Regions from separate parts of the Homo sapiens genome. Here region 2 is linked to region 1. Evidence: fine-mapped expression QTL. A gene starts in region 1. The other region holds a variant in brackets. All regions are shown on one strand. Distances are from middle to middle.

Region 1 (5,367 bases):
GGTCCTTAGCTGACAGTGTAGGAGGGAACAGTGCAGAGGAGGTTTGAAGAGTGAAGACAATGAGAGAAACACTTGCTTTTCCTCGAAGAGAGACGACGCTGGCACCGGCGCCGATTTCCTTCAGTGGCCTGGATGCTGCCTCACAGCTTGTCCCACTGCTTGGGGCCATAGCAGCAAGATTGGCTGCAGTGTTTGTCCCTCCTTCTGCACCCAAAGCTCCTAGCCAGAGCTGACCCCTGAAGGTGACAAAGAGCTGGGCTCTGAGACCTCGTCCCTCAGCCCTTTGCCCTTGTGACTGAGCACAGCAAAAACGTATGGCCTGGCAATGCCCCCCAGCCTCTTCCATATGCACCCCAACCAGCACCCGAGTCCTTTCCCCTCCCCTTTAAGGCACTGGGCCGGCGAGTCAGTTGTGAAAAACTGGCTCAGGCCCCTTAGAGGTGGAAAAAGAAATTAATATCTTTTCAGAGCAGACCAGGTGCCAGGAGCTTCATCTCATTTTACTTTCAAACCAGCCCTATGAGAAACGTCGAGTGACGTGCTAGGGTCATCCACAGTAGGTGGTAAAATCTGAACTCAAACCTCCATGGCAATGGAGCTAGCCCCTGCCCTTCTTACTATACTTTCAGCCTCTTTGTAGAAGTCACATGAGATTTTCTTTCTGACAGCTGCTGTCAAGGGCCGCCCTCTTCCACCTCTGGTCCTTGCACTACCCTTGGATTGCCACTTCTATTTCTAGGACTCCTCAGAGCCACTTGGGAACACGTGGTGGGGACTCTTACAGACTTCCTCTTCCCTTCTGGAGCCCGCCAGCCCCCTGCACCTTCTCGGATGCAACCGGCTGTGCTGCCCGGCTGGGGCACAGGCAAGACATTGCTTCACTGTGTCCACACAGAGGATGTGACCTCACAGAGGATGCGCAAGGAAACTTGATCTGTCACGGCACATGGCTCCAGGCCACCTCTACCTCTCTCCCTTTTCACAGCCTCAGTCCGGCTCTTCTCATGCTTCTGTGCCTCTGCACATGTGCCCACAGCCTGGAATTCCATTCCCCCAGCCCCCTCTCCTCTGCCCAACTCCCCTTTTCCTAAAGTCTGGCCAAGCAACCCTTCTGGAAAGCCCTTCTTGATCACCTTCCTCCCCGCTGCGCGTCTGCCACTCATAGCATCTGCCATGCCATCCTGGACCTCCAGGCTCCTGATGGGATGCCCACCTTTACATCCTGAGCACACAGTGCCTGCCTCATAGCAGGTGCTAGACACATGGTAGTTTCCTTTGAATGTGCTAAATATGCTGGGAAAGAGATTGACGGAGAGAGGAAAGTAAGAGTGCTGGTGAGGACCCAGCAGGTTCATCAGGGAAAAAAGTGGGTAAACATTACGGATTGTCTAAGTTATGTAGCAAACCTCGGTGCCCTAAAGCAACAAAGGCTGATTTCTCACCAAAGCCAATGTCCCTTGTGGACCAGCAGGGGAACTCTGCTCAGGACAGTCACTCAAGGACCCAGACTAACAGAATCACACTGCCAGAAAGCAGAGTTCTGGGAGGGTCTTGCATCAGGAAATAAATGCTTTGGTGGGGAACTCACATGCTCCCCCTATCACAAAGTAACTAGGATGTGCAGTTCTCCCATGTGCCAGGCAGGCAGAAACCTGGGAAGACTAGGCTGGGTGCAGTGGCTCACGCCTGTAATCCCGGCACTTTGGGAGACTGAGGCAGGTGGATCAGGAGGTTGGGAGATCTAGACCAACCTGCTCAATCCACCTCACCAACCACACAGTGAAACCCCATCTCTACTAAAAATACAAAAAATTAGCCACTGGCTCACGCCTGTAATCCCGGCACTTTGGGAGGCTGAGGCAGGTGGATCAGGAGGTTGGGAGATCAAGTCCAACCTGTTCAATCCACCTCACCAACCACACAGTGAAACCCCATCTCTACTAAAAATACAAAAAGTTAGCCGGGCATGGTGGTGCATGCCTGTAGTCCCAGATACTTGGGAGGCTGAGGCAGAAGAATCACTTGAACCCAGGAGGTGGAGGTTGCAGTGAGCTAACATCATGCCACTGCACTCCAGCCTGGGTGACAGAGTGAGACTCCATCTCAAAAAAAAAAAGCAAGCTGGGAAGACTGGGTGGAACATGAGGATCTCAGGCACTCAGGCACATTCCTCCTGGTCCTGATGTGAGAAGTTGCAGCAACTCCTCCAGCTGGAGGTGTTATGGGGAGTTCTCTTTATCTGAGCACTAGGCAGTTCTCAGCTCTGCTCCTGTTCTAGTGTCACTGTGGGAGGGGTGGGGCTGGCGGAGGAAACCACCAGGTGTGGCCATGGGAAAGTCCCTCCAACATTCTATAGAAACATGGAATTTCCTGGTTTTAACCATTTCATATCCAACTGCCATCTCTGAGCTGACCAGAGCAGGACAGACCCCTCCAGCCTCCTAGGACATTTGATGTGGGGCATCGAGTCCTGGCTGGGAAGTTGGCACCTGGGTGCCAGCCCCAGCAGTCTCTGAAGAGCATGGGTAAATTACTGAAGTGTGTGGGCCTCCATGCCTTCAATGCCTTTCTGTAAAATGCTTTCCAAGCTCCCAAACAATTCCAAATATATCCATGTCATCCAATCAACCCACAGAGTAGCTGTTACTCTGCGGGTGAGTGAGCTGGCTGGGAGGGGCTGCATGCTGTGTGCTCAGGTCACACTGGAAGGCATCAGCTGGGTCCCCGCGCTTGCTCTCGGACCTCTGCAGGCCTCCTGGGAAGGTGACTCAGATCCAACTTCTAGGACTGGATCGGCATAGCTCCCACACTTCCTTGGGGTTCCTGGGTGTGGGAGCATGGACTTCCCAGGCAGCTTTCCACTTAGTTAACTTGCCCAACCTGCTCTGTTGACTCTGGGAAGAGCCCTGAACTTCCCTGCTCCAGTGAACTGTGGGAGATGCCAAAACAGCACCCAGCTGCCCATCAAGATTACCAGAAGGGCCCCAGTTCCTGGCTTCTCTGTGGCTCACACTCTGGTCCTATTGCCTACCCTTGGGAACTCAGAGCATCCTCTTTCTCTTTTCTGCTGAGCTGGTGGCTGCACCGAGTTGCCTCTGTCTCTTTAAGAGAGAAAGAGAGAGCGAGAGACGGAAATCAGGAAGTGCGAGAGAGCTGAGAGCCAGGACTCAGTGCTGAGCTTGGTGTCCCACCGCCACAAGGAGGCAGGGAAGAAACCCACTAGTCCCAGCTCCTGGGGTGGCACAGACATTGCAACTGGCCCTGCCTGTGGGTCCTAGGGGCCCTTGGCTACCAGGAGGCTAAGAACACTGCTCATGAATGACAGTGAGCCCTGAAAGCTCTGGGGGTGTCACCCAGTCCCACAAGCCTGCATCCCCTGCAGTGGAGATGGGGTGAGTGTGCAGCGTGCGGAGGGGGGTGGGGGTGGAATGAGGGGCCAGACAAGGGGCAGCTGCAGGGCAGCTCAGCCGGGTGCAGGGGTGTGGGCTTGTTGGCAGCGGTGCTCTCACATAGAGCGTTGTGTGTGGCATGGAGGTGAGCCACCACGGGCCAACCACAAGCCCTCCCTGGGCTCTGCTTACCAACACCCAAAGCCAGCGATCAGCACCCAGCGCCTGCCCTCACCTTTCCCGGGGTCTTTCTCCCTGGCCGGAGTCTCAGGAGTAGGAGACGCTGGGAAAGGCTCCCTGAACAGTTTGGGAATAGAGCTGGAAACCCCCAGCCCAGCCCTGTGGGGGAAGGTGACAAACAGGAAAGGGTTAAAGGGCTAGGGCCGGCGGCCTTTGATGGAGGCTGAGAAGCAACTGCACTGAGGGGCGCCTCTCATCCGCCCTCCTCTTTCCGGTGTAGCTCAGCTCCTGGACGTGCCACAGACAGAAAGCATAACATACACTCGCCAGGAAGAGCCTTTGCCTGACTCAGGGCAGCTCAGAGTGTGGGGTAAGTGCACTTGGCCACAGCAGAGCCCTGAGGAGGGAGGGGAGGGGAGAGGTGGGTGGGTGGTGTCTCACATGCTTCACTGTCCACTGCTCATTCATCCAACCACTGGCTGAGGGCCACTGAGCCCTTCTTTGCACCAGGTGCTTGGGGTGGTGGGGGGAGGATCTGCAGAGCGTGCAGAGTTAAGCCAGATGTGCCACAACCAGAGCTCCCGGGCACAGAATCCAGGGGCACACCGCTTGTCTGGGGGTCTGCGCTTTGCACCTCACTGCCTATTATCCCAGAGTCCTGAGCTGTTCCTTGCCCCAGTATCAGAGCCCTTGGCCTTGATTTCAGCCTGCTGTGCTCCAACCCCAGCCCCAGCCCCCAGACCTGCTGGCTGCCTCCAGCCTCAGCGGGGAAAACCAGACCCACTCATTCATGCTGAGCTACTGTGTTGTCTTCAGGAAGCCTCTCAGTACCTCAGTTGCTTCTGTGTAATGTCCGCTCCTACCTGATCTGAAACTAGGAGTTGACCACCGATCTCTTCAAGGGGCCTCTGGCTCAATGAAATGACATTATCAAGGATTTGCATTTTTAAAAAAGATTACACAGAGAAAAAGTTCAGAGCGAAGGAACATAGGATTCCAGGCATGGCAACCCTCAGTTTGAGAACCTGTAAGATGTTAGAACACGAAGATGCCTTTTCTAGTCTAGCGTTATTTAAAAGTATTTAAGTGGCCAGGCATGGTGGCTCACACCTGTAATCCCAGCAATTTTTTGGGGAAGCCCATGTGGCCGGATTGCCTGAGCTCAGGAGTTCAAGACCAGCCTGGGCAACATGGCAAAAACCCATCTCTACTAAAAATACAAAAGACAGCCAGGTGTGGTGGTGCACACCTATGGTCCTAAGCTCCTCAGGAGGCTGAGTTGGGAGGATTGCTTGAGCCCAGGGGGTGGAGGTTGCAGTGAGTCATGATTGTACCACTGCACCCCAGCCTGGATGACAGAGTGAGACCTTACGTCAAAATAAAAAAAAGAAAAAGGAAAAAGAAAGTATTTAAAGGATGGTGGCCCTTCTAATGCTTCTGTCCCCAGGTATCCCAAAAAGGCCAGCACTGGCCTTATTTTTCAAAGAGAAATTGAGTTTAACTTCTGAGGATACACTTTCTGGTACTAATTGCTTTAGGAGAACTAGGCTTTGGGGAAAAGATGAGGACAAAGATGGGAAACAGAGTTGTAGGGGGTTTCAGATTCTCCCAATGGCTGAATGATGAATTTTGCCTCCCCTATACCCTGCTCTCACACACACACCCACACCCTTCTCCCCAACGCCCTACACACATACACACACACACACTCTCACACACACACACACACACACACACTCTGAAGCAGCCCCATCTCTCTTGGAGCAGTACTGGCCCGGCTGTCAGCTCACAGCAGCAG
Region 2 (5,367 bases), 27 kb after region 1:
AAGCCCTGTTGAAGCTTAGGCATTTTCCACAAATGAGTTGACATCCTCAGGAGGTGTAGGGTTCACTTACAGCCTTTAAAATGTGAGCCTCCATGCTGTCAGGGAGATGGGGGCCTGGAGGCATGGGGTTTGTGCCTGTGTCCAGCTCTGCACTCCATATGTACTCTGTGCTCAAGCTGCCCCAGATGCCTCCTTGAATCACAGCCATCCTCAGGATAGGTGCTGTTTTCATCCCCATGTGCTACCCCAGGAAGCCACAGCGCAGACACCTTGGATACGATGCCCAAGGCCGGTGTTTCTCTGGCCTTGTGGGGCTCCCGTCCCTCCTGCCAATGCTCATGGGCCAGCCCGGGGCTGCAGGATCATCTCCTGATTTGACTCCCCTCCTTGGGGTGCTGAGGGGTCATGAGAGGTTGGTGTGGGAACGCAACAGGGCTCCGACTCTGAGATTGAGATTTTGCATACCAGTAAAAGTTCTTTCTTTTTTTTTTTTTTTTTTTTTTTTTTTTTGAGACGGAGTCTCACTCTGTCACCCAGGCTGGAGTGCAGTGGTACTGTGTCGGCTCACTGCAACCTCCATCTCCTGGGTTCAAGCAATTCTCCTGCCTCAGCCTCCTGAGTAGCCAGGATTACAGGTGTCCACCACCACACGCAGTTAATTTTTATATTTTTAGTAGAGACAGGGTTTCACCATCTTGGCCAGGCTGGTCTCAAACTCCTGGTCTCAGATGATCTGCCTGCCTTGGCCTCCCAAAGTGCTGGGATTACAGACATGAACCACTGCGCCCGGCTACGTACCAGTATAGTTCTAAAAGAAAACTCGAGAACAACAGAGTTACCAGCTGCTCACATAACCAAGTAAGCACATTTGAAGTAAAAAAAAAAAAAAAAAAAAGCCCTGTCATCTAGTAACCCTACTTTATAAAACACATTTTACCACCAAAGAGAGATAACCTCAGGATAAAGGATGGTCCTTGCTTGCCCTGAAGGCCAGCGGCCCTGTTTATATACATGTACACACGTGCACGCATCTCCCACTCCTGCCTGTCATCCTCGTGTCTGTCATTTTCCTGTCTGAGAACCAATGGCAGGGTAGAGTCAGCAGAGGTTCCTACAGGATTTCAATCCTGACCCTGCTTTTTACCAACTGCGTGACCCTGGGAGGTGTGTTCAGCTTTGAGCTTCAGTTCCCTCCCCTGTGAAACAGGAGTAATAATTTCTACCTCATGGTGTTGACATAGGGATTTAAAAAAATGAGATATGCAAGGTGCTTGCGCATAGGGGGGTGTGGAGGGAAGGGCTCACTAAATGTTACTTCTTCCCCAGAGGCCACTCCAGTCTCACACTAGAATTGGGGCCAGGAGGTAGGGAAACCAGGAGCAGAGCTTGTGGTTTGTCCCCAGAGTTTCAGAGGGTCCTTGGGTAAGGGAGGAATCTCCTCCCTGTCCTGTTCCAGCAAGAGAACTCATCCTCTTAAACACCCACAAAGAGGACATTTGACAGCTTCTTGGAAGGATTTTCCAAAACAGCCCTCTTGGTCAGGAAGTTCTAATTTTAGTGCCAACAAAAATTGCTCTTGCTGTGATATGTCATCTATTTGCAGATAGCTCAAAACTTTATTTTAGTGAATTTTCACTTCCTTATTCAGAGCTGTAGCCAAAGAGCCAAATGAATCCATTTAAACTCCTTTCCCCTCCTAAACCTTGGCTACACACTGGAATCACCAGGGGAGCTTTTAAACGTACAAATGCCTGGGTCTTGCCCCAGAGACTCTGGGTACAGCTTGTGGTTAGGATTTGCATGAGCTTTCCAAGTGATTCCAACATATAGTCAGAGGCGAGAGCCAGTGGGTTCTTGTCGGGGAGTGAGGGTGCTACAAGGGGAGAGCTGAGGACTTGAATGGCTCAGTGTTCTTGAAAGCTAATTGTGCTGGGCCCTGGAGTGTGGTCTGCAGGCCTCTCCAACAGGTGGGCACTGCTAGCCTGTACCTTTTCTTGTAGGCTAAATAGAGTCCCAGCAC[C/T]TCCTGATGTCTGAGCTCCATGGGGCACATGAGGCATCCTGAAGCATTAGAATGATTCCAACACTGCTCTTCTGCACCATGAGACCAACCCAGGGCAAGATCCCATCCCATCACATCAGCCTACCTCCCTCCTGGCTGCTGGCCAGGATGTCGCCAGCATTACCTTCCACTGCCTTTCTCCCTGGGAAGCAGCACAGCTGAGACTGGGCACCAGGCCACCTCTGTTGGGACCCACAGGAAAGAGTGTGGCAGCAACTGCCTGGCTGACCTTTCTATCTTCTCTAGGCTCAGGTACTGCTCCTCCATGCCCATGGCTGGGCCGTGGGGAGAAGAAGCTCTCATACGCCTTCCCACTCCCTCTGGTTTATAGGACTTCACTCCCTAGCCAACAGGAGAGGAGGCCTCCTGGGGTTTCCCCAGGGCAGTAGGTCAAACGACCTCATCACAGTCTTCCTTCCTCTTCAAGCGTTTCATGTTGAACACAGCTCTCTCCGCTCCCTTGTGATTTCTGAGGGTCACCACTGCCAGCCTCAGGCAACATAGAGAGCCTCCTGTTCTTTCTATGCTTGGTCTGACTGAGCCTAAAGTTGAGAAAATGGGTGGCCAAGGCCAGTGCCAGTGTCTTGGGGCCCCTTTGGCTCTCCCTCACTCTCTGAGGCTCCAGCTGGTCCTGGGACATGCAGCCAGGACTGTGAGTCTGGGCAGGTCCAAGGCCTGCACCTTCAAGAAGTGGAATAAATGTGGCCTTTGCTTCTGTTTCTGGTGGCTCTCCCTGGGCTGTGTCTGCAAGGCAGGGCTCTCAGCTGGGTGTGCTTGGCAACCAAGTGGGGTCTGGGCGGGGATCTGTGAGAAGTGCTGGGAAATGGGGGTGGGAATTGGTCATGTCCTGATTTCTGCCTTTCCCCTAAATGGGCCCTAATTTCAAGGAAGAACCCAAGGGGTGCCTTCCCATTCCTTCCATTCTCTTGCCCCCGCATCATTTGGAAAGCTGTGTGAGGGGCCTGGAACTTAGGGAGAAAGGTATTCTTCTTTTTTTTTTTCCTTCAAACCCACCATCTAAGTGGCTACTGCTTTTTTCCCATCTCCACAGCTATTCAAAACCTAGGCTATGTCCTAAATAGTGGGTTTGAATAGTATTATGGGTTATTTTAAGCATTCCTTCATTTTGTCTAGAATCTAGAGTGGTGCCTGGGCAAGGCATTCTGACTTTTGCAAACTGCTTGCAAATTTACCTCCAGCCTTCCCATAAACCAGAGCTGGACTACCCACCTACCTGGGTGGGTGAAGGAAGGGGAAGGGGAAATGCAGTAAGGTAGCCCCAGTAGGAGAGAGAGACGAGTGGGAAGCCCCACTGTGTGCTTCGAAGCGTGAAGACAGCATTATGCTTGACTGGAAATAACCCCAGAGATCCTTCCTGTCCATCTTCATGGGAGCCCCCACATCCTGAGGCCACTCTACTCACCTGGTAGGGCCAGAAATGGGGAAGGGTGAGTCCTGGAGGCTTCTGTCCTCTGTGGTGCTTCTCTGTGCAAAGACCAGCACTCTAAAGGCCTGGGGGAAGGTGGCTGGAGGTTGTTTCCTTGCATCAGGTCCAAGTGGCTTTGTGTTTGTTATTTGGGCCTCAAGCCCGTGGAGTCACTTAAGCCCAGGGGTTCAAGTCCTGGGGCCTCAGAGACCAGCTGCCGCCTTGATGTTCCTGGGTACTAGACCACCTCTCGTCCACTCTGCTGGCCTGAATTTCTGGCCAACACTTCCAGCCCATGAGTGGCCCTTCAGGGAAGTCCCACAATGGGTTTTCCCTGGCAGCAACAGCTTGCAAAACCCCATGTGCTTGGTGGAGCTCAGTGAAGGAGCCAGGGGATCCCTGAATGCCAAATACAGATTTTTGGGAGATGATATGATCCAGGCTGTATGATCTCATGAGCAAAGCCTATGAGATGTGGCGGACAAACTCACTCAAAGGCTTCAGTTCAGTTGTTTTTTTTTTTTAATTTTCCTTCTTTTTTTTTTTTTGGCAGGGTTTTGCTCTGTTGCCCAGGTTGCAGTGGAATGGTATAATCTTGGCTCACTACAGCCTCGACTCACTGTAGTGATCAAGCGATCACCACTACTACTCACTGTAGGACCAAGCAATCCTCCTGCCTCAGCCTTCCAAGTAGCTGGGACTACAGGCGTGCACCACCACACCCAGCTAATTTTATATTTTTTGTAGAGATGAGGTCTCACTATGTTGCACAAGCTGGTCTTGAACTCCTGAGCTCAAGCAACCCTCCTTTCTTGGCCTCCCAAAGTGTTAGGATTACAGGCGTGAGCCACCACGCCCAGTGGCTTCAGTTCATTTCTATGCAAGGCAGAGCTGCTGACATCAGTGCCTCCCTGGATCTGAGGTTCTGCAGAGCTGCTGATTCCATCTCAGTAGGAAATGAGGAACTGGACCAAGACCCAGAACAACCCATAAGATCCTCAGGTGTCTGAAGACCTCTTTAATGTACCTCTCCATTCTCTGCAGTGATTCCTAACATAACACTTAAAATGAAAAGAGCCCATTCAGTTCACCAGACATGATCTGAGCCCTTACAGTGTACCAGGCCCACGGGATGCTGGAACTACAGAGGTGACTAAGCCACCTTTCTGGCTCATGGGGAGCTCACCTCTATGGGGGAAGACAGGTATGCCACAGATAGCTTCCCATCATGGAGGAGGTGCTATGCTAGGAATGCAAACATCCAGTGTGGTCCTGAGTCACCATCCTCACAGGGGAGGGTGCTTAGGTCAGGCTGGGAAACTTCCTAAGTGTCAGGGAGTGACTGAGAACAGGTGAATCCAAAGTGGTCTTAGCAGGTGAGCAGGTGATACCTAGCAAAGAAGGTGTGGGAGGCATTCCTGGCCGTGGGAGCAGCAGTGGCACAGGCATGGGAAGAGCTACTAGTATTTCTATATGACTGGAGAGTAGGTTAAAGTAGGATGCTGGTATTGTGGAAAGGGAGGAGCCAGTCCAAAAGGTCCTTGCAGGCCACACTGAGGAACTTGGACTTTACCCCAGAGGACCACAGAGAGGTTTTAGGTCAAGTCCAACTGGTATTTTAAAGATACTACTCCTCGGTGCCCGTGTGGTGAGTGGAAAGTTGTGGGTAGGAATAGATTAGCTATGTGCATAAAGTGCCTAAAACTCAATATTATTATTATTATTGTTATTATGTGAGACGCAGTTTTGCTCTTGTTGCCCAGGCTGGAGTGCAATGGCACTATCTCGGCTCACCGCAACCTCTGCCTCCCGGATTCAAGCGATTCTCCTGCCTCAGCCTCCTGAGTATCTGGGATTACAGGCGTGTGCCACCACGCCCGGC

The links. PIP is the estimated chance that this variant, and not a neighbour inherited with it, causes the effect.
Region 2: its variant is fine-mapped to the expression of IKBKE in whole blood (TOPMed, PIP above 0.99).

The regions. Positions count from the first base shown.
Region 1 is chr1:206,467,307-206,472,673 of GRCh38, forward strand. IKBKE (inhibitor of nuclear factor kappa B kinase subunit epsilon) reads left to right here and starts at 3,170. Exons shown (of 22, transcript NM_014002.4): 1 at 3,170-3,392; 2 at 3,850-3,939. RefSeq lists enhancers at 1-541, 542-1,405, 2,080-2,717, 2,237-2,546.
Region 2 is chr1:206,494,112-206,499,478 of GRCh38, forward strand. IKBKE (inhibitor of nuclear factor kappa B kinase subunit epsilon) reads left to right here. Exons shown (of 22, transcript NM_014002.4): 22 at 2,001-2,778. The coding sequence ends at 2,034. IKBKE-AS1 (IKBKE antisense RNA 1) reads right to left here and starts at 3,617. Exons shown (of 2, transcript NR_172918.1): 1 at 3,483-3,617. RefSeq lists an enhancer at 3,562-3,711. The variant C/T (reference allele first, on the strand shown) is at 2,021.